Homo sapiens: one gene and its partners. The protein of the gene in region 1 purifies or fractionates together with the protein of each later gene. This does not show direct contact. Each region holds a gene or a part of one and is shown in the gene's direction. Other genes may lie near its edges. The genes, in order: GDE1, REEP5, ATL3 and LRATD2.

The links.
Region 2: the proteins of GDE1 (region 1) and REEP5 purify together in Homo sapiens (affinity purification with mass spectrometry; 3 studies listed by BioGRID and IntAct, with this or other methods). This does not show direct contact.
Region 3: the proteins of GDE1 (region 1) and ATL3 purify together in Homo sapiens (affinity purification with mass spectrometry; 3 studies listed by BioGRID and IntAct, with this or other methods). This does not show direct contact.
Region 4: the proteins of GDE1 (region 1) and LRATD2 purify together in Homo sapiens (affinity purification with mass spectrometry; 3 studies listed by BioGRID and IntAct, with this or other methods). This does not show direct contact.

Annotation. Positions count from the first base shown.
Region 1 is NC_000016.10:19,501,176-19,505,116, reverse strand, and holds the end of GDE1 (glycerophosphodiester phosphodiesterase 1), read left to right. Parts: intron 1-24; coding exon 25-236; intron 237-1,499; coding exon 1,500-1,647; 3' UTR 1,648-3,424; downstream 3,425-3,941. UniProt on the Homo sapiens protein: Hydrolyzes the phosphodiester bond of glycerophosphodiesters such as glycerophosphoinositol (GroPIns) and glycerophosphoethanolamine (GroPEth), to yield a glycerol phosphate and an alcohol.
Region 2 is NC_000005.10:112,898,197-112,905,231, reverse strand, and holds part of REEP5 (receptor expression-enhancing protein 5), read left to right. Parts: intron 1-2,713; coding exon 2,714-2,852; intron 2,853-6,860; exon of another isoform or gene 6,861-7,035. UniProt on the Homo sapiens protein: Plays an essential role in heart function and development by regulating the organization and function of the sarcoplasmic reticulum in cardiomyocytes.
Region 3 is NC_000011.10:63,661,371-63,668,405, reverse strand, and holds part of ATL3 (atlastin-3), read left to right. Parts: intron 1-7,035. UniProt on the Homo sapiens protein: Atlastin-3 (ATL3) is a membrane-anchored GTPase that mediates the GTP-dependent fusion of endoplasmic reticulum (ER) membranes, maintaining the continuous ER network. It facilitates the formation of three-way junctions where ER tubules intersect.
Region 4 is NC_000008.11:126,555,448-126,562,746, reverse strand, and holds the start of LRATD2 (protein LRATD2), read left to right. Parts: upstream 1-4,268; 5' UTR 4,269-4,713; exon of another isoform or gene 4,714-5,261; 5' UTR 5,262-5,357; coding exon 5,358-6,290; 3' UTR 6,291-7,299.

The DNA of each region.
Region 1 (3,941 bases):
TTACTTCCCCAAATTCCTTTGCAGATGAGACAAACAGATCGGGATGTAATAACAGCATTAACTCACAGACCTTGGAGCCTAAGCCATACAGGAGATGGGAAACCACGCTATGATACTTTCTGGAAACATTTTATATTTGTTATGATGGACATTTTGCTCGATTGGAGCATGCATAATATCTTGTGGTACCTGTGTGGAATTTCAGCTTTCCTCATGCAAAAGGATTTTGTATCCCCGTAAGTTGGAAGGTTTTTTATTTTACCCAGACAGACATCCTGAATGCTCTTATTTGAAAGGAAGGATTAACAGAGTAGACAACCTGAATTGGTTCTGACCTGCAAAGCTTACCATACCTCTAAATTGGATTACCAATTTCGCTTCTTAGGTGGGAAGAGTTCAGGCATATTTCACTGTTTTCAGACCGAGTCGATCACATATTTTCGGTTTTTTAGTGTATTTTGAAGAAAAAAAATGAACCTGTGACACTATGCTGAGCAAGGGATTTTATTTCTGTGACTGGTTTTTTTGAAAGCCAACACAGGATCCTGGGCAGAACCACAGTGAAGACATCCTGTGGGCACCAGCCTCCCCACTACCGTCTTATGTTATAGGCACTCCCCCACCTCTCCCCATAAAATTTCCATTTCCTAACCTGCTAGCGATCTCGGAATCATTTCTTTGGCAATTCTGTATCTGTATATTTCAGCTAATTAGAGTTGTAGGTCTAGTATTATTTCAGACATACATGATTCAGTTCAATAAATATTTGGTAAGTGCCTATACTATTGCAAGGTTCCATGTTGAGAAGCTGAAGATGCAGTGGGTAAAGAATCAAAGCCATGATCTCTGCCCTCGTGACGTTTATAGCCAAGTGGGAGAGTGAGAGATGCTAATCAAATAAAAATCCAATCAATATAAAGTTAAAACTAAGATACAGGCTATGTCAGAGAAAACTGTGCATGGGCTATAATCTAATCTGGTCTGGGTTGTCAGAAACAGCATCCCCAAGGAAGTGACAGTTAAGCTAAGATCTGAAGGGTGAGTGGGAATTGGGAGGAATCCAGATCAGAGAGAAAAATACATGTAATGTGCTCTGGCAGGAAGGAACATGGTTCTTTCCAGGAAGTGAAAGAAAATTAATATTCTTTCAATTAATTTAAAATTAATCAGCACAGAAAAGAAAGGGGGAATGTGGTGTGAGATGAAGCCAAGGAGACAGGTCGGGGCCAGGTCAGGCACACCTTCAGTGGCTGTGCCAAGGACATTTGGGGGTGGCGATCATTAGTGAGCTACTGAAATGTTTTAAGCTGGGACAGTGTAGAGGAGGTTCATGGCATCCTGGGTTTTGGAACAGTCCCTCTGATCACAGTGCAGAGGCCAGTTAGGAGGCATTCTCTGGGCACCATTGGTATGCAGTGAACACCATACTTAGTGGCCATTATGGATTCCTGAGACAGCTGCTTATTATTCTAACAGGATTGGCTTTCCTCTTTCCCCAGGGCCTACTTGAAGAAGTGGTCAGCTAAAGGAATCCAGGTTGTTGGTTGGACTGTTAATACCTTTGATGAAAAGAGTTACTACGAATCCCATCTTGGTTCCAGCTATATCACTGACAGCATGGTAGAAGACTGCGAACCTCACTTCTAGACTTTCACGGTGGGACGAAACGGGTTCAGAAACTGCCAGGGGCCTCATACAGGGATATCAAAATACCCTTTGTGCTAGCCCAGGCCCTGGGGAATCAGGTGACTCACACAAATGCAATAGTTGGTCACTGCATTTTTACCTGAACCAAAGCTAAACCCGGTGTTGCCACCATGCACCATGGCATGCCAGAGTTCAACACTGTTGCTCTTGAAAATCTGGGTCTGAAAAAACGCACAAGAGCCCCTGCCCTGCCCTAGCTGAGGCACACAGGGAGACCCAGTGAGGATAAGCACAGATTGAATTGTACAGTTTGCAGATGCAGATGTAAATGCATGGGACATGCATGATAACTCAGAGTTGACATTTTAAAACTTGCCACACTTATTTCAAATATTTGTACTCAGCTATGTTAACATGTACTGTAGACATCAAACTTGTGGCCATACTAATAAAATTATTAAAAGGAGCACTAAAGGAAAACTGTGTGCCAAGCATCATATCCTAAGGCATACGGAATTTGGGGAAGCCACCATGCAATCCAGTGAGGCTTCAGTGTACAGCAACCAAAATGGTAGGGAGGTCTTGAAGCCAATGAGGGATTTATAGCATCTTGAATAGAGAGCTGCAAACCACCAGGGGGCAGAGTTGCATTTTTCCAGGCTTTTTAGGAAGCTCTGCAACAGATGTGATCTGATCATAGGCAATTAGAACTGGAAGAAACTTCCAAAAATATCTAGGTTTGTCCTCATTTTACAAATGAGGAAACTAAACTCTGTGGAAGGGAAGGGGTTGCCTCAAAAGTCACAGCTTAGCTGGGCACAGTGGCTCATGCCGATAATCCCAGCAATTCAGAAAGCTGAGGCAGGAGGATTACTTGAGGCCAGACTGGGCAATATAGCAAGACCCCATCTCTAAAAAATTAGGCATGGTGGTGCATGCCTGTATTCCCAGCTACTCAGGAGGTTGAGGTGGGAGGATCACTTGAGCCCAGAAGTTCAAGGCTGCAATGAGCCATGATTACACCACGGCACTACAACCTTGGTGGCACAGTGAGAACCTGACTCTTAAAAAAAAAAAAAAAAAAAAAAAAAAAAAGATAACTAGAACTTCTAGAACATCTTGTTTACAGTTAGCCAGAAACTATACAAGTGGTTTAACATGCATTATCTTACTCAATCCATACAAAAGTCTTATGGAGGTGTTAGCACTCTTTCTACTGATGAAGAACTGAGGTACTTCATAAAACCACTTACCCAAGGTGTCTTGAGTCTGGTACAACTGGCATTCAAATCTAGGTCAGTCTGCCCCCAGAGCCACTACCCTTACCCCTCACTGAATCTGCCTTTATATTGTTGAGCCCATGACCCCAAACTGCTCTTTCCAATTTGAACTTCCAGGGATTTTATTGTGAACTTACATAGCAACATTAAAATGAAGTTGAATTGTTTTTAATGGCAACGCCGTCTGTCTCCTCTAGCTTACCGCTTCTCACCTTTCAACCCCATCTGTGGCCTTTGTCCAGGCCCACAGCTTAGCCATGGCTTCCCTCCTGCATCCCTGCCGTGGGTTGCTGGCCTCACACTTGCAGCAGCTGGACAGTGATTTTAGAAGGCCACCAGTCCCCATAGCTATGTGACAATGAGAAGCAAACTTTTTTGTGACAGATTGTATTGGCATAGGCATGATAGATGGGGATTGGTACGTTTTGAATCAGCATTTGCAAAAAAATTGTCTTGAATTTTAAAATAAACAACAAAGATTTGTTCATTGAGTGCAACAAATGTCTAAACTGCATGTACTTCCGTGCCATGTTATGACTAGAGTGAAAGGAGGAGGAAAAAGTGACCAAAGAAGATACATCAGGCCAGGCGTGATGGCTCATACCTGTAATCCCAGCACTTTGGGAGCTGAGGTGGGTGGATCACTTGAGGCCAGGAGTTTGAGACCAGCCTGGCCATGATGGGGAAACCCCATCTCTACTAAAAATACAAACATTAGTTGGGCATGGTGGCACATGCCTGTAATCCCAGCTATTCAGGAGGCTGAAGCAAGGAGAATTGCTTGAACCCAGGAGTCAGAGGTTGCAGTGAGCCAAGATTGTACCACTGCACTCCAGCCTAGGCCAGAGAGCAAGACTCTGTCTCAAAAAAAAAAAAAAAAAAAAAAAAAAGATACCTCTGTTCAACACTAGCTGTTCAACAGGCTGTTCAACACTAGCCTGGGCAACATAGTGAGACCCCATCTCTACAAAAAATTTACAAATAGGGGCTGAGATGGGAGGATCACTGGAGCCT
Region 2 (7,035 bases), on another chromosome or scaffold:
TCTCTCACCATGACTACATGGGGCACTTCACTTTTTTGAACCTCACGTTCCTGAGTGAGCTAGACCATCTCTTCCCTTTTTTCTTGTTTTGGGTAGTTTGTGATTGTTATGACACATAAAGACATTTTTTAAATTGAACATTGTGCTATTTTAAATTAAAACAATTAAATGCTTCAATAATATGAGAAGATCTATTAAAAAATCTCTTTAGCTTAATAGACTCATTGGCCTTTTCCTGGCTTCTTTCATATGCCTTGGTTTTCTGCAAAGTTGTGATCAGTGTATGTATTCAATTTGGAGTTCTTTTATTTCTACTTTTCAATGTTACTATATAGTGTTCTAGTATATTAACATGGGGACTTTAGAATTCATATTGTAGATATGAATTAAAAAAGAATTTTTTTTTCCTAGAAGAGCTGAACTGTTAGGCTTCCTGTTTTTCAATCTGTGGAACTTGACTAACATTTAAAAAATAATGAAATAGAATGGAATTTAAAATATCAGAATGGTTTCAGGAAATATCTATTTAAGTTTATATTTTTATGTGAAGATGTCTGTTTACTGGATCATGATGTAAAATGTATGCTTACCGAGGGTTGTGGCCAAAAGAATTTAAAAGCCACTGGATTAACAATGACAGTCCCATCACATTTTGAGGTTTTTACGTCATATTCTAGAAAAGACTGTTTAATTCCCAGGTGTGTCCTGAGAGTTGCTTCTTTTGGAAGTACATAGTTGTGAGCTATTGCGTTCACAAAACTAAGACCTTGAGTGAAATGTAATTACGTATCTCCTCTGCCCAGAATGAATGTACAGGAAACAAATTTTTATTATACTAATAATTAAATAAATCCAATTAAATATGGATAAGCCATACTATACCAAATGAAACACAGCGGGAGAAGAAATCTTACACATAAAGGATATACTGTGTTCTTTGGTTAACATGCTTGTCTACACTTTTCCTTTGGCCTTCTATTACATTCGCCAGCTTCTATCTGAAGGAAGCTAAAAAAATACAGACTTTGTGCATACATTACAAGCCATTTTTTAATAATCAGCTCTCTTAAATTCATTTTATATGATTCTTGTACTTTGAAATATTTGGGGCTGGGTGTGGGAGCCACCAGACTGCACTTTGGGAGGCCAAGGCAGGAGGATTGCTTGAGGCCAGGAGTTCGAGACCAGCCTGGGCAACACAGTGAGACCTTGTCTCTACTAAAAATTTAGCAAGTAGCTAGGTGTGGTGGTGTGTACCTGTAGTACCAGCTACTTGGGAGGCTGAAGTGAAGGGAATTACATAAGCCCAGAAGTTTGAGGTTGCAGTGAGCTATTATTGTGCAACTGCACTCCAGCCTGTGCAGAGACCCTGTCTCAAAAAAATAAAAATTTTGCCTAGTCTTGAAGTTCAAAGCAACATTCACCTTATTACTTGTTCCTCTCTCTGTCTTCCTCATTAGTAATCATCTCATTGAGCTACAATTTTTCCCCTTTTGGTTATTTTCTAAAACTCACACACATAGCTGCTTCTAATTAACTGTACAAGGGCTTTCTTAGTGAGTGACTGAGCATGATTTAGCAGCCTGACTGTCTCTTTGGGGAGCTGATGTTATGGAGTAGCCAATGTATTTGCTTTTTGAAAATTTTTTATTTCAATAGGTTTTTGGGTAACAGGTGGCGTTTGGTTACATGGATAAGTTTTTAGTGGCAATTTCTGAGATTTCGGTGCACCCATCAACTGAGCAGGGTACACTGTACCCAATGTGTAGTCTTTTATCCCTCACTACCCCCAGCCCTTTCCCCAAAGTCCCCATAGTCCATTGTATCTTATGCCTTTGCATCCTCATAGCTTAGCTCCCTGTCAATGTATTTTCAGTAGTTAACCTGTTTCATAGGCTAAACAAGATTCAGAGTTCTTTTATTTTACTGTTTCAGTCCAGCTCAGTTACGATAAATATCTAGATCTGTTAGGATAAGAAATTGTGGAGCTTCAGGTTTAGAATAATGAGATTCCTAGGACTGAAGGAAATTTCTGTGATTTAGAAAATTATTTTAAATGTATTTCCATCCATTTGCAGAATGAATTTTGTTTAAGCAATAGTTAGGGTTGGGAAAGTCCTGTTATTAACTGAGGAGAGGAGGAAAGTCCATAGCCTGTGGATCAGTTAAAGACATTCTGAACTAAATAGACACCATGAGGTTTGTTTTCACCCGTTTACTATAAAATATGCTGTGGATTTTGGGCAGTACCTAACCTATGTTCCAAATGTTGCTTTATGGGAAATTCTTATTCACCCATGATATATCTCAATTATTAAAAGTACATAAGAACCTGGTTATCACGAGAGAATTCTTCCTGATATATCCCTCGTGGCAGGACCCAGCTTGGGAGTGGAAATTGCTCTAGCTCCCAGTCACTAGTGGTATATTCTAGGACTTGTGGGGAGGCTTTGGCAGGGTGGAGATCCAGGGCAGTAACAGCTGGTGCTGGTTTCTCTGGTGACCAGGAGACTAGAAACAAGTGGTTATAATGGCTTGTCCCGATATCCACATTGCTTCCAGTCTTTAAGCTGTACTCTTGCATCTAGTGACACAGTGCCTACATGTGCCTAAGTTTCTCAGTGGTATCAGAGGACAGGTTATGAAAGTGTATTTGAAAATCTTTCATTGATATCTTACCAAATGATATACTTTCTTTTGTACTGCCTTTCAGAATTAAAGCTATAGAGAGTCCCAACAAAGAAGATGATACCCAGTGGCTGACCTACTGGGTAGTGTATGGTGTGTTCAGCATTGCTGAATTCTTCTCTGATATCTTCCTGTCATGGTTCCCCTTCTACTACATGCTGAAGGTATGTTGGTCTTGCTACCACTAAAACTCCATCTCAGTACCTGTATAGAAGAAGTAGGAATAAATGCTTGAATGTTGTGCATCTGTGGCTCTGTCTCAGATTATAAACAAGAAGACAGGCCTGGGCAACAGAGCGAGACTCTGTCTCAAAAAAAACAAAAACAAAAAAATGCTCAAGCAAGCCACTTGCCTCAGCCTCCCGAGTAGCTGGGACCATAGGCGCACACCACTGCACCTGGCTACTCTTTTAAACAATTTTATCTAAAGAAATTTAGATATAGGAAATTAAATATAGGAAGCTCCATCACTCCAACCACCATCATAAATGGTAGTATCTTGAGTTTTAGTTCTGGTTAATTATGGATATATAATTCTTTTTGTCTTTGGTCTTAGCCTTTTTTTTTTTTTTTCTTTTTTTGAGATGGAGTCTTGCTCCGTCGCCCAGGCTAGAGTGCAGTGGCATGATCTTGGCTCACTGCAACCTCCACCCCCCAGGTTCAAGCAATTCTCCTGCCTCAGCCTCCTGAGTAGCAGGGATTACAGGCGCCCACCACCATGCTTGGCTAATTTTTGTATTTTTAGTAGAGACAGGGTTGGTTTTTTTAAAAATCTATTTATTTGTACTTCTTCTGGGAGATTTCTCAATCTGACCTCCTTTTTTTTTTTTCTGAGATGGACTCTTGGTCTGTTGCCCAGGCTAGAGTGCCATGGTACAATCTCCGCTCACTGCAACCTCCGCATCCTGGGTTCAAGTGATTGTCCTGCCTCAGCCTCCCGAGTAGCTGGGATTACAGGCATGTGCCACCACGCCTGGTCAATTTTTGTATTTTTTTTGGTAGAGAAAGAGTTTCACCATGTTGGCCAGGGTGCTCTCGAACTCCTGACCTTAAGCAATCCACCCACCTCGGCCTCCCAAAGTGCTGGGATTACAGGCGTGAGCCACCGTGCCCGGACTCAATCTGACCATCTAATTTTCAACTGTACTCCATGATTACATTATAACCATTCTGTTATTCCTGCTATATACCGTGTTCTTCATTTCAACTATTATATTGTTCACACCTAATGTTTTTGCTTGGCTCTCTTCTTCTTGTCCTTGTTTCATATTGCTAATATTTTCTCATTTCTTTTAGTATGGTTACCGCTCCCCAGTTTAAAATTCTTGGTCAGCAGTTCTAATATTGTTGCTCCTGACCAAAACTTGTAGTTGATTGTGTTGTTTTTCTTTTGAAATGTACTCTTGGCCAGGCGTGGTGGCTCATGCCTGCAATTCTAGCACTTTGGGAGGCCGAGGCGGGCAGATGGCCTGAGCTCAGGAGTTCGAGACCAGCCTGGGCAACACGGTGAAACCCTGTCTCTACTAAAATACAAACGAAATTAGCTGGGTGTGGCAGAGTGCACCTGTAGTCCCAGCTACTCAGGAGGTGAGGCAGGAGAACTGCTTGAATCTGGGATGCAGAGGTTGCAGTGAACCGAGATCACACTACTGCACTCCAGCCTAGGCAACAGAGCCAGACTCCATCTCTAAAAAAAAAAAAAGAAATATATTCTTAAAATATCTTTTTATTTTAGCCTACAAACTGCTTTTCATCCATGAGTATCAGCTATCCCATCAGGCACTGGAATGGAGGGGGCCCCAGTCCATGCTAGTACTAGTAAGTTCTGGGTAGGGGGTGGATGAGTCCTAGGAGTGGGGGGCCCCAGGCACACAGGAACCATAGTTAACCACTCTTCACCTACAGAAGAGCTCCTCAGGTCAAAGCTTCACTGTACAGTCCCCTTCTACCCCAGCAAAGCAGCATCAAAAGGAAGTGATCCTGGGTTATAGTTCACAGCTCTAGGGGTTGGAGCAGGAGGGGTAGGGAAGTAACTGCCTTTAGTTAGTGTCCACCTGTTTTCCTGAGTGATTTGCAAAGACAGGACTTTTATGCCAAAACCTCTGTTTTAGAAAAAAGTAGAGGACAATATTTTTTAACTTTGAGGTATAGAAGCAAGACAAAATACAAAAGTTTCAAAGAAAAAGATTTGATAAATTCAACTAAAAATTTCTAAAAATTAAATTTCTATATGACAGTGGGCAGCATAAACAAAGTTAAAATAATGACAGACTAGGAAGATAGATTTACAACATTTACACCAAATAAGGAATATCCAGAATACATAACAATTTCCATAAGTAAAAAGAAAAAGAAAATGGGAAAAGGTTCTAAGTTAAGTATTTCACGGAAGAGAAAAAATATGAATGGCTAGTAAACAGCTCACCAGTGATGTGGGAAGTGTGAGTTAAAATAGTGAAATCCCATATTTTGTTCATTAAACTGGCAGATATTTTAAAGATTGAAAATATCTGGTATTGGTGAATGTATAGGGAAATGGACATGTAATGGTACAGGCTGAACATCTGAAATTGGAAATCCTAAATGCTTTAAAACCCCAAACTTTTTGAGTGCCCACATAATGATCAAAGGAAATGCTCATTGGAGCATTTAGATTTTAGAGTTTCTGATTTGGTATGCTCAGTTGGTATAATGTACATATTCCAAAATCTGAATAAATGTGAAACCCGAAACACTTTTAGTCCCAAGCATTTCACATAAGGGATACTTAACAGCCTAGTGGTATAAACTTGAATAACCTTTTTAAGGGACCTTTTAACCATTTCTTGTTGAATTGAAAAATGATACTCTTAACAATTCTAAGGAAATAGTCACTGTGCATTAAAGAGCTGCACAAAGATATTCATGGCAGCATTTTTTGTTGTCAACTGTATATAATATGAACTGCATAATGTAAACATTATAAACAGAAATGTCCATCAGCAGGTAAATGGTTCATTCAATTAATAGTATATCCATACAGTTAAATGGAATGAAATAGATCCATATGTACAGACCCAGAAATTTTTGCATAATTTAGTAATTATGAAAAGTTATACAGGACAGTTGTGCTAGCTTTTGCCTGTAATCCCAGCATACTCGGAGGCCAAGGCAGAAGGACTGCTTGAGGCCAGGAGTTTGACACCATCCTGGGCAACATGGTGAGACCCTGTCTCCACACACACAAATTTAAAAATTAACCAGGCTCCCAGATCACAGCATGTTGACCAAAAAAAAAAAAACCGAAAACCAAAAAACAAATGCCAGGCATGGTGGTGCATGCCTGTGGTCCCATCTGCTCAGGAGGCTGAGGTGGGAGGATGGTTTGAGCCCAGGAGTTCAAGGCTACAATAAGCAATGATCACCCAACTGCACTCTAGCCTGGGTGACAGAGTGAGACCCTGTCTCGAAAAAGAAAAAAAGTAATAGAACATTAAATACAGTATCACACCATTTATGGTTAAAAAAGAAAAAAGACAAGACACTATATGAAGTGAGTGTCTTTTAAAGTTTAAAAAATTAAATGAAAACATGCTCAGTATAGATTCTTTTATATTTTTGAATGACTTCACCACAGAATGCCTTGTAAGGCAATTAAGAATTTTCCTTTCAAAACTGATGGAAGAAAATAAAAATTGGTCTGTGGAAAGAGTTGATTTCAAAGATTGGATTTTTTTGTTTTTATTATTCAAAGTCATTTAACATTTATAAAAATATTCTTACAATCTTTAATTTGGACATGACATAATTTAAACTTCAGATAATTTTAAAGCCCTTAATAAGATCCATCTAATCGTAGGGACCTCACAGTAGTCTTTAGTGGAAAGAAATTGGCTTTTGCTTTGGGCCCACTTGCTTGTGGCAGTGAACACTATCTTGTCAGCAGAACTACTTGCAGTAGTTCTGACCTCAGACTTCCAAATGTGAGCAAGCTTGACTTCTAGCCTACTCCTAATCACCTCTGCTAATGGAGTTCACAGAGAGGTAGAGAGAAGATCCAAAATAAATGGTAGTCACTGAATCATTTATATTTGGTTTTGAAGTTCATTTAAAATATTGCTTTGTAGCAGACTTTCTTCCCTAATGGTAAAATGAATGTGCATCCATTAGTAGTCTCCAGCTGCATGGCATCATAGTGTTCATGAAAGTGAATTTATTGCATACATTCCAAATAGATAACATACTTGAAAGGATTAAACATTCATGATGCTGTCAATCAAAATACTTTCTTCCTACATTAGTGGCATACTCTGAATGACCTAGTGAACAGACTGAGAAGAGGCCTCTGAATTGCAGAGTCTCGTCTGT
Region 3 (7,035 bases), on another chromosome or scaffold:
CACTGCCTTAAGACAAAACGGTATATAAAAGCACCCACCCCTCCACCACCAGAAGGAACCACACCCAGCAGTTCTAGAGTTGGCTAAGGTCTTAGTATACTTACTCTTGCCTGTGATGATGTTTTCTCTGGCTTTGTCAGTTAGAAACCTTAAAGACTGCCAGCAAGAACAAGGCATGAAAATGGTATGCCTCTGTTTTGGGTGTGTTGCTCTTGCCCTTTGGAGAATATGATATTTTATAAGGAGACTGGAAAACTCAGGTCATAACTTTACCCTGAGTCATACATGAATCTACTCAGCAAAGTGTTTCTGTGACTGGTTGGTTACTTTGTATTCAGAACTCTTTGAATGGTAAGGATAAACACCAAGGCTGACTCTACTCAGTGGTTCTTAACCTATGGTAATATTGCCTCTTCCTGCCCCTGGAGCATTTAGCAATGACTGGAGACGTTTTTTGGGTGTTAGAACCTGTTGTGGGGAGTGTTACTGGTATCTAGTGGGTAGAGGCCAGGGATGCTGCTCAATAGCCTGTAGTGCGTAGGATAGCCCCCCACAACAGTTGTGCAGCTCCAATGTCAATATGTCAGTAGTGCTGAGGTTGAGAAACCCTAGTCTACACTGTCATTTTTTTTTTTTTTTTTTGATACAGAGTCTCGCTCTGTCACCCAGGCTGGAGTGCAATGGCGCGATCTCAGCTCACTGCAGCCTCCATCTCCCAAGTTCAAGTGATTCTCCTGCTTCAGCCTCCCGAGTAGCTGGGACTGCAGTCATGCACCACCACGCCTGGCCAATTTTTTTGAATTTTCAGTAGAGTCAGGGTTCCACTATATCGGTCAGGCTGGTCTCAAACTCTTGGCTGCAAATGATCCATCCGCCTTGGCCTCCCAAAGTGGTGGGATTACAGGCGTGAGCCATTGCACCCGGCCCACTTCTCAGGAATCCTAAACTCTTGGGAGGCTGAGGTGGGAGAATCACTTGAACCTGGGAGGTGGAGGTTGCAGTGAGCAGGAATGACGCCACTGCTCACCAGCCTGGGCGACAGAGCAAGAATCTGTCTCAAAAAAAAAAAAATGCTTTCTAATTATACAAAGATTTTCAACATTTTCTACATACTTGAACTGATGAGTGATAGAATATTATCATGAGCTATTTACAGCAATGAAGTAGTCCCCATTATCTGAGGGGCATATATTGTAAGGCCCCCAGTGGATGCCTGAAACTGCTGATAGCACTGAGCCCTGTATACACTACGTTGATCAGTGAGAAGGCTACTAAATAACTAATGGGCATGGTAGCATATACAGTGTGGATACTCTGGAAAAGGGAATGATTCATGTCCCAGGCAGGATAGCACAAGATTTCATCATGGTACTAAGAACTGCGTTGCAATCTTAAGACTTACGAATTGTTTATTTCTGGAATTTTAAACATATGTTGTAAATTCACATAAATACATATGAATGATAGATGTAACAGTGGTCCAGCTGTAGCTTTGTGTCTGTGCAAAAACATCACGTTATCCATATTCATGTAAGTAATGTAATACAGCATTAACTGTTGTTGCAGTATGCAGAATTAGACCTTGGAAAATAATTGCTTCTCTAAAGGGACAAGGCATGTAAAGTTGCCACTTACAGATATTTTTAGTACCCTCCCCGGAGACTAGATCTCCAGAGTTTAAGATTCCTGACAAGTGGACCGGGCACGGTGGCTCATGCCTGTAATCCCAGCACTTTGAGAGTCTGAGGTGGATAGATCACTTGATCGCACGGTGTGCGATCCACCCCCCTCGGCCTCCCAAAGTGCTGGGATTACATGCATGAGCCACCACACCCAGTTAGCACTTGACCCATTTTAGTGATGAAACTGAAAACTAGACATGCCCAGGATCACACAGGTTGTTAGTGGCAGGGCTGGAACAGGAACTTGTGTTTTGAGTCCTAAATTTGTATATTTCCACAGGTTACTTCTGAGAGTAAGCAGGTGAATCTGTCCCTTAGGCAGTTGTACATTTAGACTAAATGCAAGTTAGAGATCTGTGAAGTTGTATCATCCAAATAGAGGGTAGGCCGGGCGCGGTGGCTCACGCCTGTAATCCCAGTACTTGGGGAGGCTGAGGCGGGTGGATCACCTGAGGTCAGGAGTTCGAGACCAGCCTGGCCAAGGTGGTGAAACGCCACCTCTACTAAAAATACAAAAATTAGGCGTGGTGGTGGGTACCTGTAATCCCAGCTACTTAGGAGGCTGAGGCAGGAGAATTGCTTGAACCCAGGAGGCAGAGGTTGCAGTGAGATGATACTGGGAGGCTGAGGTGGGAGGATTGCCTGAGCCCGGTAGGTTGAGGCTGCAGTGAACCATGATTGCACCACCGCACCTCTAGCCTGTGCAACAGAGTGAGACCCAGTCTTAAAAAAGGTGTAATATATAAGCAGCTCCATTTAACTTGCATTATTGGTGTGTACAGCTCAAAATAATTCTTCCCTTACATAAGCCCAAACCCAAGGATCACTGTCAGTGAACAACATCTTTTTTTTTTTTTGAGACAGGGTCTTGCTCTGTTGTCCTGATTGTAGTGCAGTGGTTGACTTACTGCAACCTCTGCCTCCCAGGTTCAAGTGATACCAAGTAGCTGGGATTACAGGCGCGTTACCACCAAGCCTGGTTAATTTTCATATTTTTAGTAGAGATGGGGTTTCGCCGTGTTGCCCAGGCTGGTCTCGAACTCCTGATCTCAGGTGATCTGCCTGCCTCAACCTCCCAAAAGTGCTAGGATTATAGGCGAGACCTCCCATGCCTGGCCAACAAGATCTTTTTTAATCTGGTGGGTGTTGATAATCATGCTTATATTACTGGTGTGAAGAGAAATGCAGAATCACCCCAGCTCTTCCAACTAAACAGAGCCTGGTTCCCTTCCTTTATTCTTGGGTACCGTGCTACAGGGAGAGGAAGAGATGAGTAAGGACTTTTCCCCCATAGCTGTCCTCAGTAGTCTTCAGCTTCTCTTGAAGTGCAGTTCACTGTACACAACTGTATACATTCTTCTTTTTTTTTTTTTTTTTTGAGATGGAGTCTCACTCTGTCACCCAGGCTGGAGTGCAATGGCTTAATCTCAGCTCACCGCAACCTCCGCCTCCCGGGGTTCAAGCGATTCTCCTGCCTCAGCCTCCCGAGTAGCTGGGATTACAGGCATGTGCCACCACGCCCAGCTAATTTTGTATTTTTAGTAGAGACAGAGTTTCTCCATGTTGGTCAGGGTGGTCTTGAACTCCTGACTTCAGGTGATCCACCCACCTTGGCCTTCCAGTGTTGGGATTGACAGGCATGAGCCCCCATGCCCAGTCTCAACTGTATACATTCTTATCATTGGATTACCCCATCTTGTAACCACGTAACTTTATCTTCCATGTCTACTGCTCTGACAATGCCACTTGGATCCTTTGGGTTGTAGCCTTCAACCACATTATGGTACATGTCATTCATTCATTTTACAATAGTTTATTGGCCGGGTGCGGTGGCTCACGCCTGTAATCCCAGCACTTTGGGAGGCTGAGGCAGGTGGATCACAGGGTTAGGAGTTCGAGACCAGCCTGGCCAATATGGTGAAACCTTCTATCTACTAAAAATACAAAAATTAGCCGGGCATGGAGGTGCATGCCTGTGGTCCCAGCTGCTCGGGAGTCGCTTGAACCCGGGAGGCGGAGGTTGCGCTGAGCCAAGATCGCGCCACTGCACTCCAGCCTGGGCAACAGAGCGAGACTCCGTCTCAAAAAAAAAAAACAAAAAAACAATAGCTTATTGTATGTGCTGTGTGTCATTACATTGATATTGCTCATTACATTCACATTGCTCAGTACGCTTTTTTTTAAAAGACAGAGTTTCGCTCTGTTGCCCAGGCTAGAGTGCAGTGGCGCAATGTTGGCTCACAGCAACCTCTGCCTCCCGGGTTCAAGCGATTCTCCTGCTTCAGTCTCCCGAGTAGCTGGGATTACGGGTGCCTACCACCACGCCCAGCTAATTTTTTATATTTTTGGTAGAGATGGGGTTTCACCATGTTGGCCAGGGTGGTCTCGAACTCCTGACCTCAAGTGACCTGCCTGCCTCGGCCTCCCAAGGTGCTGGGATTACAGGCATGGGCCACCGAGGCTGGCCTCGCTCAGTAAACTTTTAATAGTGAAATAGATAAAACAAAAAGATCTGGTATGATGAACTTAATTGTAAAGTCCTGGAAGACTGTTGTGTTGGCTGCTAGGCTTGGCTGTATTTGATGGAGCCTCCAAATAAGTGATTTAAGCAAGGTAGACATTTATTTTTCTTTCACACAGAAGTGAACCAATATGGCAGTTCTGCTATACGAAATCTGACCTCTCTTGTTTCTCCAGCATTCCTGGGGTGTTGCCCTCATATGCCTGGCCCAAGATGATTCACTCCCACTTTTACATCTAGCCAGCAAGCAGGGGGAAAATGCCTGATCTGGAAGTTGTGTCTGTTATTTCCAGTCACTTCCCATTGTTCAGAATTTAGTCACCTGGTCATATCCTAGCTATAAATTTGGGTTGGAAATGTGTTTCTTCTGGGCAGTTGTATGCCCAGCTAAAAATCTATTATATAGCAGGAGGGAGAAATTAATATTGGGGGAACAACCAGACATCTCTGCCACAATCAAGACTTTGTTTTGTATTTCTTTGAGTGCTACACAGTACTTAACACTGTGGCTTATCCCTGAAGTCTGAATAAATTCTTCTCATTAGTTCTTTGTATGAAAGACTGAAGGTCTTTGGATCTTGGATTTACCTGCTGCTGGGGCAATAAGAACCCTAAGAGATTATTCACAGAAGTGTTTCCTTTTTAATCCAGGCAATAACAGGAAAGAAAAGTATTAGTATACATTGATTACAATGATAGCATGACATTTAACCTATATTTATAACTTGTTTTCCAATAGTCTGCAAAAACTTAAAAAGTAGGAAGAAGCCAGCCACAGTGGCTATCATCCACATTCACAGTGGCCTATCATCCCAGCATTCTGGGAGGCTGAGGTGAGAGGATCACTAGAGCCCAGGAGTTTGAGACTAATGTGGGCCACATAATGAGACCCCCATCTCTACAAAAAAATTAAAAAATTAGCCAGGCATGGTGGCACACACCTGTACTGCCAGCTACTCTGGTGGCTGAGGTGGGAGGATTGCTTGAACCCAGGAGTTTGAGGCTGCAGTAAGCTAGGATTGCACCACTGCATTCCAGCCTGTGTGCCAGAGCAAAATACTGTCTCCAAAAAAAAAAAAAGTGCGAAGAACCCTTCTGTTGCTATCTGATACTATAAATGTAAAAAGTGAGCAGCAATTCCAGTAGCTTGAAGGGGAGAGAGTCTTGCAGTCAAACTGTTTTGTCTGCTTTGCCTGCCATGATCGTGTAGCCTTCAGTGCTGGTTAGACAAAGTCATTTTGGAACCATCTTTGTGATTTTGGCCATGTCTGCCTGTCAGTACTAAGCTTTACTTACTATGTCTCCTTAAGTCTACTTTAAATGGACTTCTTGGCTGGGTACTGTGTCGCTGTGATTTTGGCCATGTCTGCCTGTCAGTACTAAGCTTTACTTAATATGTCTCCTTAAGTCGACTTTAAATTGACTTCTTGGCTGGGTACGGTGTCGCTGTAATCCCAACACTTTGGGAGGTTGAGACGAGTGGATCATTTGAGCTCAGGAGTTCAAGACGGGCCTGGGCAACATGGTGAAACACTGTCTCTCCAAAAATACAAAAATTAGCTGGGTGTGGTGATGAATGCCTGTAGTCCCAGCTACTTGGGAGGCTGAGGTGGGAGGATGACTTGGGCCGGAGAGGCAGAGGTTGCAGTGAGGCAAGATTGTGCCATTGCACTCCAGCCTGAGTTATAGAGCCAGACCTTGTCTTAAATAAATAAACAGACTTCTTAAACTTAGCATCCTTCTAAAGAATAATTTATCAAAATACAGATTTGTTGTTTTAAAGTATACATTAACATGCATAATTATTAAAATTACTATGTCCTTTTAACTACCTAAAAACATCTTTAATACCAGTGACACATACTCTTAGGGAAATAGTTCTTTATTCATTCCTTACGCCCCACTGGTAGTTTTTTGTGAACTTCCCATAAGTCCACAGCTACTAAGTGGCTCTGAATTTCTTTCTTTCTTTCTTTTTTTTTTTTTTTTTGAGATAGAGTCTTGCTCTGAAATCTAGGCTGGAGTGCAGTGGCACGGTCTTGGCTCACTGCAGCCTCCACCGTGCAGGTTCAAGTAATTCTCCTGCCTCAGCCTCTGGAGTAGCTGGGATTACAGGCACCCACCACCACGCCCGGCTAATTTTTGTATTTTTAGTAGAGATGGAGTTTCACCATGTTGGACCAGGGTGGTCTCGAACTCCTGACCTCAGGTGACACGCCTGCCTTGGCCCCCAAAGTGCTGGGATTACAGGTGTGAGCCACCATGTCTAGCCTGAATGAATTTCCTTCTTGCTTTCTTTTCACTTTTTTTTTTTGAGACGGAGTGTCACTCTTTTGCCCAGGCTGGAGTGCAGTGGTGCAATCTCAGCTCACCACAACCTCCACCTACTGGGTTCAAGCGATTCTCCTGCCTCAGCCTCCTAAGTAGCTGGGATTACAAGCACGTGCCACCACACCGGGCTAATTTTGTATTTTTAGTAGAGATGGGGTTTCTCCATGTTGGTCAGGCTGGTCTGGAACTCACAACCTCAGGTGATCTGCCCGCCTCGGCCTCCCAAAGTGCTGGGATTGCGCAGGTGAGCCAGCACGCCCGGCCCCTTGCCTTCTCTTCTCTTCTCTTCTCTTTAAGACAGTCTCTCGCTATATTGGCCAAGTTGGTCTTGAACTCCTGGCCTCAAGCAATCCTGCCATCTCAGCTTCTCTAAGTGCTAGGATTACAGGCGTGGATGCTGTGCCTGGCCTGAATTTCAAATTAATTAGTTATCTTTGTGCTTTGGTAGGGAAACTCTGGTAAGGAAAGTATAATATAGTTAGTGCTTAATTTTGAACTATA
Region 4 (7,299 bases), on another chromosome or scaffold:
CCTCCTCCGAAGAGGTGTGTGGGATGTGACACTCGGGTCACTGTTGGGGGGATGAAGCTGCCGTATGGCTGAGAATTCAAACCCAACTAATATTTCTTTATCGAACTGCTGCTCTTGGGGAAGGCATTTTCCCAGCCTGCTCTTTGCTTTCCTCCAGCCTCCATCTGCCTGGGATGCCTTTCCTCCCACAGCCCAGGCCTCTGTGGGACCTGCTTCCTTTCTTGCTCCTGCAGTCCATTTCCTGTAGGGCAGCTGCCTGGATGCCCTTAAACTCAAAGGCTCGCCCACCTCTCTACCTGCACCTCCTGTCATAGCTACATTCACTCACTGTACTCTGGTCACAACTGTAGTCTTTCCTTTTTCCTAATCACTTCCAGTCTTTTCCCCCTCTAACCTTTGCTCTTGGTCTTCCCTCTGGAGGTAATATCAAGGCTGGCTCCTCATCCTTCAAGTCTCTGCTCATTTCTATTTCCTCAGGAGCCCTTCCCTGACCATCTTAACCCAAGTAGGCCACCCCCATTACCCTCTCCTTACTGACAGCTATTCAATCCCATTTCCCTATTTTACCTTCTTCATAGCCCTGCTCTCTCTCTCTCAGATATTTCCATTGATTCATTTACTTATTTATTATTTGCCTCCTCTCATCAACATGTAAAAGCCATAAGAGCGGGGACGTTGCTTGCTACATCCACAACTGTATCCTTGGAGTCTGGTAAACCCAGACACCCAAATATTTGTTAAATATTGTAGAATCTGTTGGATTCTATTTAAAACAAAGAAGTTAAAAGCATGGGCCTGGCCGGGCACAGTGGCTCATGCCTCTAATCCCAGCACTTTGGGAAGCTGAAGTGGGCAGATCACCTGAAGTCAGGAGTTCAAAACCATCCTGGCCAACATGGCAAAACCCCATCTCTACTAAACTTATAAAAAAATTAGCCCAGTGTGGTGGCAGGCACCTGTAGTCCCAGCTACTCGGGAGGCTGAGGCACGAGAATCGCTTGAACTCGGGAGGTGGAGGTCGCAGTGAGCCAAGATCACGCCGTTGCACTCCAGCCTGGGTGACAGAGTGAGACTCCATCTCAAACAAACACACAAACAAACAAAACAAAAAGCATGGGCCTGGAAGTAAAGTGGGCTTGTGTGATCTTTCCACCTACCAGCTGGGAGAAGCCATGGCCTCTCTAACCTTTCTTCTCCTTTATAAAAGAATCAAGAGCTCACTCCATGGGAGTTATTAATTTTAGAGTTGTGTTTCCCCGATGAGCCCAAGACCCTGTTGGCAGGCACTTGGTCATTAATCTCTGTATCCACCATGCCTTGAAACATCACCTTACCGCCCCAGCATCCTCTATGTCTTATTACAGGACATGTCACAGTGTCCCAAAGAGTCTATTTATTTCTCTGTCTCCTCCAATATGGTGACTACCTGGGGACACGAACATCTAAGAAACCTAGCACAGTGCCCATTGTAGAATTGGATGCACAGTGATTAAGACTAGCAGGCACCCAGTATGTCTTCATGAAATGTATTTTGAACCAAGTCCTCTTTAGAAAAGACATGAATAAATATATTAATTAGAATATGAACTTTAATACATGAATTAGAGAATAATACCAGATAGTATATGATCAAGTGCTGAGTTACACATATTCAGGTAATAAAATGTGTAGTACAGGTATTGGATGGCAAAGGTGGCCAACAGAGAGCTTCCTGGACCAGGCAAGGGACCTAGGTACGTGAGGTGTGGGGGACAGGGACTGGATCCAACTGGAGAATATAGTTCACCCGCAAGGCAACTACCACTTCTCTCCAGCAATTTGTTGCCATCCTGGAATATGGGTCTGATTGTCTCATATCTTTATTTTATTTACAGACAGAGTCTCACTCTGTCACCCAGACTGGAGTGCAATGGCGTGATCTCGGCTCACTGCAACCTCTGCCTCCCGGGTTCAAGCAATTCTCCTGCTTCAGCCTCCTGAATAGCTGGAATTATAGGCGCACCCCACCACTCCCGGCTACTAATTTTGTATTTTTAATAGAGATGGGGTTTCACCATGTTGGCCAGGCTGGTCTCGAACTCCTGATCTCAAGTGATCCTGCCTTGGCCTCCCAAAGTGCTGAAATTACAGGCATGAGCCACCACGCCCAGCCAAGTCTCATATCTTTAGATTTTTCAAATGAAACTGGGAATATGAATTTTTTAATATCTCCCAAGTTTTCAAATTGTTGACAACAAGCTTAAATTTATTAAACAACTATTTGAAATGAGCAAAGCATGTCTGAGAGCCATGTTGTAATCTCTGACCAAATGTTCCAGGTGACAAGACGGATGTTGAACCCTCAACAGGCATTCATGGAAGAATCTACACTAGACGCCAGCTATCAAAAGGCAACATTTCTTCACTCACTCACTCACAGCCCCATAAAACCAGGAAGCAATTCTTGACCTGTGGCCAAATTTTCCCCTAAGGCATCCATCAAGCATTTATTGAGTACCCACTCAGTGCCAGGCATTCAGATATAAAATGGATCAGGGCTTGTTCCCTCTGAGGCTTTATAGTTGGTCAGTTCAAGATATGTTGTTGAGCCACTATTGTGCACCTGAGAACAGCTCATCAAGACAAAAGGAGACACACCTAGTCAGCTAGGCATTGCTTCCTCACCCACCAGATCTCTGACCTAGAGTGCTGGTAGCAAATTGTCCTACAACTGTGTCCTCTCAGTTCAATTCTCCCATTCCCAGCCATCCCAGTAGCACCTAGGAGCAAAGTGGCCTCCCAAATCAGGCAGTAGCAGAGGTCTCCCAATCTGATGAACATAGGATGACCAGCCATAATCTCTATAAGCCTAACTCTTGTCTATAATATGGTGATCATATGATGGCAACAAATATCACTCAGGTAACAGCAGCCCCCCACACCATTTGCTATCAAAAGGACTGGGGTGTGTTGGATTCATTCAGTCACATGCGCCTGAGGCCAGCCAGTCTGAAATTATTGAAACAGAATCGCACAGCACACAGTAGTCTCATGTTGATCTAACTTATACTTCAGACTTGCTGAAGGACTAATTTCTATCACAGCCCTGCCAATATTGATTGTTTGGACTCAAAATTACATAAGTAGAATGATTTTTATTTTTTTCTCCTAAACTAGAAAGGATCACAGTAGTGCTAGTATATTCCTGTTTCCACTGGCTGGTTATACATGCTGGAAAAAATTAGTCAAAAGAAAGCAACTGAAGACAGAATATAGGTCTTGAATCGCATTCTTAAGTCCCCTACGAATAAGTCTGGGTGCTTGCAGTAGTGCCTAAACTTGTTTATTGTAAACAGAGCTGTTAATCCTCCACCCTCACCGGACCCATTATTTTAAAAAAATAAACAACAACAACAACAAAAAAAACACTTTGGTAGCCTACATTTAGGTAAAAGAAACGAAACCAGTGGAGAGGTGGAAGTGTCCTTTTGTGGTGGAGGTTAGTAGGCATTACTGGTCTCCTGTCACTTCCCTAAGTCAACAGGAAGGAAATATATCCACTAGGGCCTCTGCTAATTTGTTTCTAATTTAAGGACAATTAGAATTAGGATGTAGGAATTAGGCAATTCCTACATCCCCTAACCCCCCACCCCCCCAAAAAAAAGCAGTCAGAGCTGCACGCTTCTCTCACTATCCAACGAACTGGTACCTCTCTGGAAATAACGGAGGTTATGAACTTTGTACTAACTTCCAGGGGTATCTAATAAACAGAGCGGTGGTCTTGGGACCCAGTCAGTGAATAAGTCTTCGTTCTGTTTTATACTGTTTCTTTTCTGCGATTTTCTTTTCTACCCCAAAGTTTCCCACTACTAACTCTGAAAACACCTCTAGGATGACGCACTCTTCGAGCTGTCCTGGTGAAGAATCCTTTCTTGTGACCTTTAGGGCAAGAAATATGTTCCAGGAAAGAAAAGAAACGACTGTTCCTCCTTCTCCAGGTACTCTGGGAAAAAACAGGTCAAAGGGAAAAGGCGCAAACACCAAACTCTCCTTCCCTTTCTCATTTCCACACTGGCAAGTTGTGTTTGCCTTCTAACTTGTCTCGGAAGGCAAGCAGAGCTCACAGCACCAGCCCCAGGCGGCGGGTGGATTATTTACAGGGGGATTTAAACCCGCTCCGGCGCGGGGGCGTGGCCGGGCGGAGTCCCGAGGCCCGAGTGGGCGGGGCGGGGGCGGGGCTCCCGGCCGCTCGGCGCAATGTGAAAAAGACCCGAGCTCGGGGAGTGAGCGCCTGTCTCTTTAAATGCCACGGGCTGCGCTCCCGCCCGGGAGCCCGGAGCCGGATCTACAATCCCGTCCCTCCAGCTCCGGTGCTTGTTGCTCGCCCGGCCCAAGCGGGAGCTGTTGCCGCCAGGCTGCGAGGCTGCCGTCCTCTCCTCCTCGCGCCCCACCTCCCCCGAGAGCTGGCTGAGGAGGGGCAGCAGCCCCAGCTGGCGGGAGGAAGCGCGGTGTGAACAGGGATTGCCCCCCGCCTTCAAGTATCGGGGCGCTACGCAGCCGCGGGGGAAAGACATGCCCCTAGTCTGCCCGCTGCGCTGCCCTCTGCCCAGCCTCGCTGCCGCCCGCGCCGGGAGAGGAGGGACTGCCGAGCCTACACCTTCAAACTCGCCCTAGAAGTCTCGGGGCGCGGCAGGGAGCCCTTCCCCAGGCCCCACGGCCTTCACCTCTCCGCGGGTGAGTTTGTGCAGGTAACCCGAGCCTGAGGGCGGGCGCGGGGGAAGGGCGGGCGAGCCGGGAGGAGGTAGCGCTGCAGGTGAGCCAGGTAGGGTGACTCACCTGTCCAGGTCGCGCTCTGAGATCCTCGCTTGTTCCTCTGGGGATGGATGCGTTGGTGGGGAGGAGGCGTCCCCGGGGCTAGTTAGGGCCCGAGGGTGGGAGGGGAAGTTAGCAGAGGAGGGGGGGGATTGGCGTAAAGTTTCTCTTTCCTTCCCTCTTCCTGCCCAAGCTTGGCAGGTAGGGCGCAGGCGGAAGCAGTAGAAGCTGCTGATGCAATGGGCTTTTGCCAGGGCCAGGCGAAGGGCTGGGGACAGGGAGAACAGGAGTTGCCCAGTCTCCTGTGACCGTGACCTTACAGGTGGAGAAACGAGGGAAAGCTCGCTACACCCGAGACTTCCCCCTAAAATGGCTCCAGGTGCTGAGCCCCCACCGATTCTTTTTCGGAACAAAACGCCCTTTTCACGGAGGGGCTCCTGCATGGCTTTCTTGCCTTCCTCTCCCAACAGGTAGCCTCAGCCCCTGTCCGGGGACCTGTGCAAATGACCCTGGAGTTGGTTTCGCTTTCTCCCCTTGCGGCGGTGTGAACGTGTGTCCGCAGCGTGATGGGCAACCAGGTGGAGAAATTGACCCACCTAAGTTACAAGGAAGTTCCCACGGCCGACCCGACTGGCGTGGACCGGGACGACGGGCCCCGCATTGGGGTCTCCTACATTTTCTCCAATGACGATGAGGACGTGGAGCCGCAGCCGCCGCCTCAGGGGCCAGATGGCGGCGGCTTGCCCGACGGTGGGGACGGGCCGCCGCCGCCCCAGCCGCAGCCCTACGATCCGCGGCTGCACGAGGTGGAATGCTCCGTGTTCTACCGGGACGAATGCATCTACCAGAAGAGCTTCGCGCCGGGCTCGGCGGCGCTGAGTACCTACACGCCCGAGAACCTGCTCAACAAGTGCAAGCCGGGCGATCTGGTGGAGTTCGTGTCGCAGGCTCAGTACCCGCACTGGGCCGTATATGTGGGTAACTTCCAGGTGGTGCACCTGCACCGGCTGGAGGTGATTAACAGCTTCCTGACTGACGCCAGCCAGGGCCGTCGCGGCCGCGTGGTCAACGATCTGTACCGCTACAAGCCGCTAAGCTCCAGCGCCGTGGTGCGCAACGCGCTGGCGCACGTGGGTGCCAAGGAGCGCGAGCTGAGCTGGCGCAACTCGGAGAGTTTCGCCGCCTGGTGCCGCTACGGCAAGCGCGAGTTCAAGATCGGCGGCGAGCTGCGCATCGGCAAGCAGCCCTACCGGCTGCAGATTCAGCTGTCGGCGCAGCGCAGCCACACGCTCGAGTTCCAGAGTCTAGAGGACCTGATCATGGAGAAGCGACGCAACGACCAGATCGGGCGCGCGGCCGTGCTGCAGGAGCTCGCCACGCACCTGCACCCGGCGGAGCCGGAGGAGGGCGACAGCAACGTGGCGCGGACTACGCCGCCTCCCGGGCGCCCCCCTGCGCCCAGCTCCGAGGAGGAGGACGGAGAGGCAGTGGCACACTGATGGGCGAGCTGAGCGCAGAGCTGCGAAGGGGAACTGTTTGCAGTAGCAGCCGCTGCTCCCTTTCTCCCTCTCTTCCTCCCTCTTTTGCCACTGTCTGGGCCCCATCTGGGATTCCTGGGCCCTTTGGAAAAGAGTTGGTGAAATGCGCAGCCGGCTGTGGACGGGGGAGGAGGAAGGGGACAGAGGGAGCAGGTAGGAAACACTTTAGTTGGGGGTGGGGGGCGTCTCCCTCTGGCCCCCTGTCTGTCTTCCTCTCCGCGGTGGAGCAAACTGTGGACTTGCCTGGCACTTAAACCTTGGTAGATCTGGGTTTATAATCGGCCATTCTTAAGCACGTGGGGTTGGGGGAAAGTTCGGAGTACCCATTCCTGCCGTTGCTTCCTATCCTGGGCTTGGAAGAATCCTGGTAGAAAGGCCAGAGTGGGTTTGTGGAGTCGCCACTGCGGGACCAGCACGAAAGCTGCTTGTCTGCTTTGGCGGAGCTGAGCTGTGTATGGGATCCAGGAGGCTGGGGTGATTTATTTTATGGGATTCCTGGAGCGCAGGGCTGGTGAATCCATGACAAGGTCCGGGAGCAGCAGACCAAAACCACAGCAGCCTCCTATTAAGTGTAACAAATAGTTAAGCAAACTCGGGCTACAAACAAAGACTTTGCTACCTCCCTCCTCCACAACCCCCAAGTAATTAGCCTTCTGGAGCTGGCTCTTAGCTGAGGCTCCTGCTACCTCCTGCTCCACCCGCCCCTTCCTAGGTTACAAGTAAATCATTGTCAAGGGCCAGCCAGGGGAAGGTTTCAATTAAGGTTCTGTTCTGCTGCCTTTGTTTCTCCCCTGCTGTTGTAGGCACTTACAGCTGCGTTGTTATGAAAGGAGGGAATAGCCCTTTGTGTCTTTGATCTAATTAAACCTGCTTGGCTGTGTTTATCCGCAGGGCAGGTCACAGATAGGGTTGGCTGTGCCACTCCATAAAGTATCTATTGTGGAAGCAGCCAAAAAGGGCTGCTGTGGCA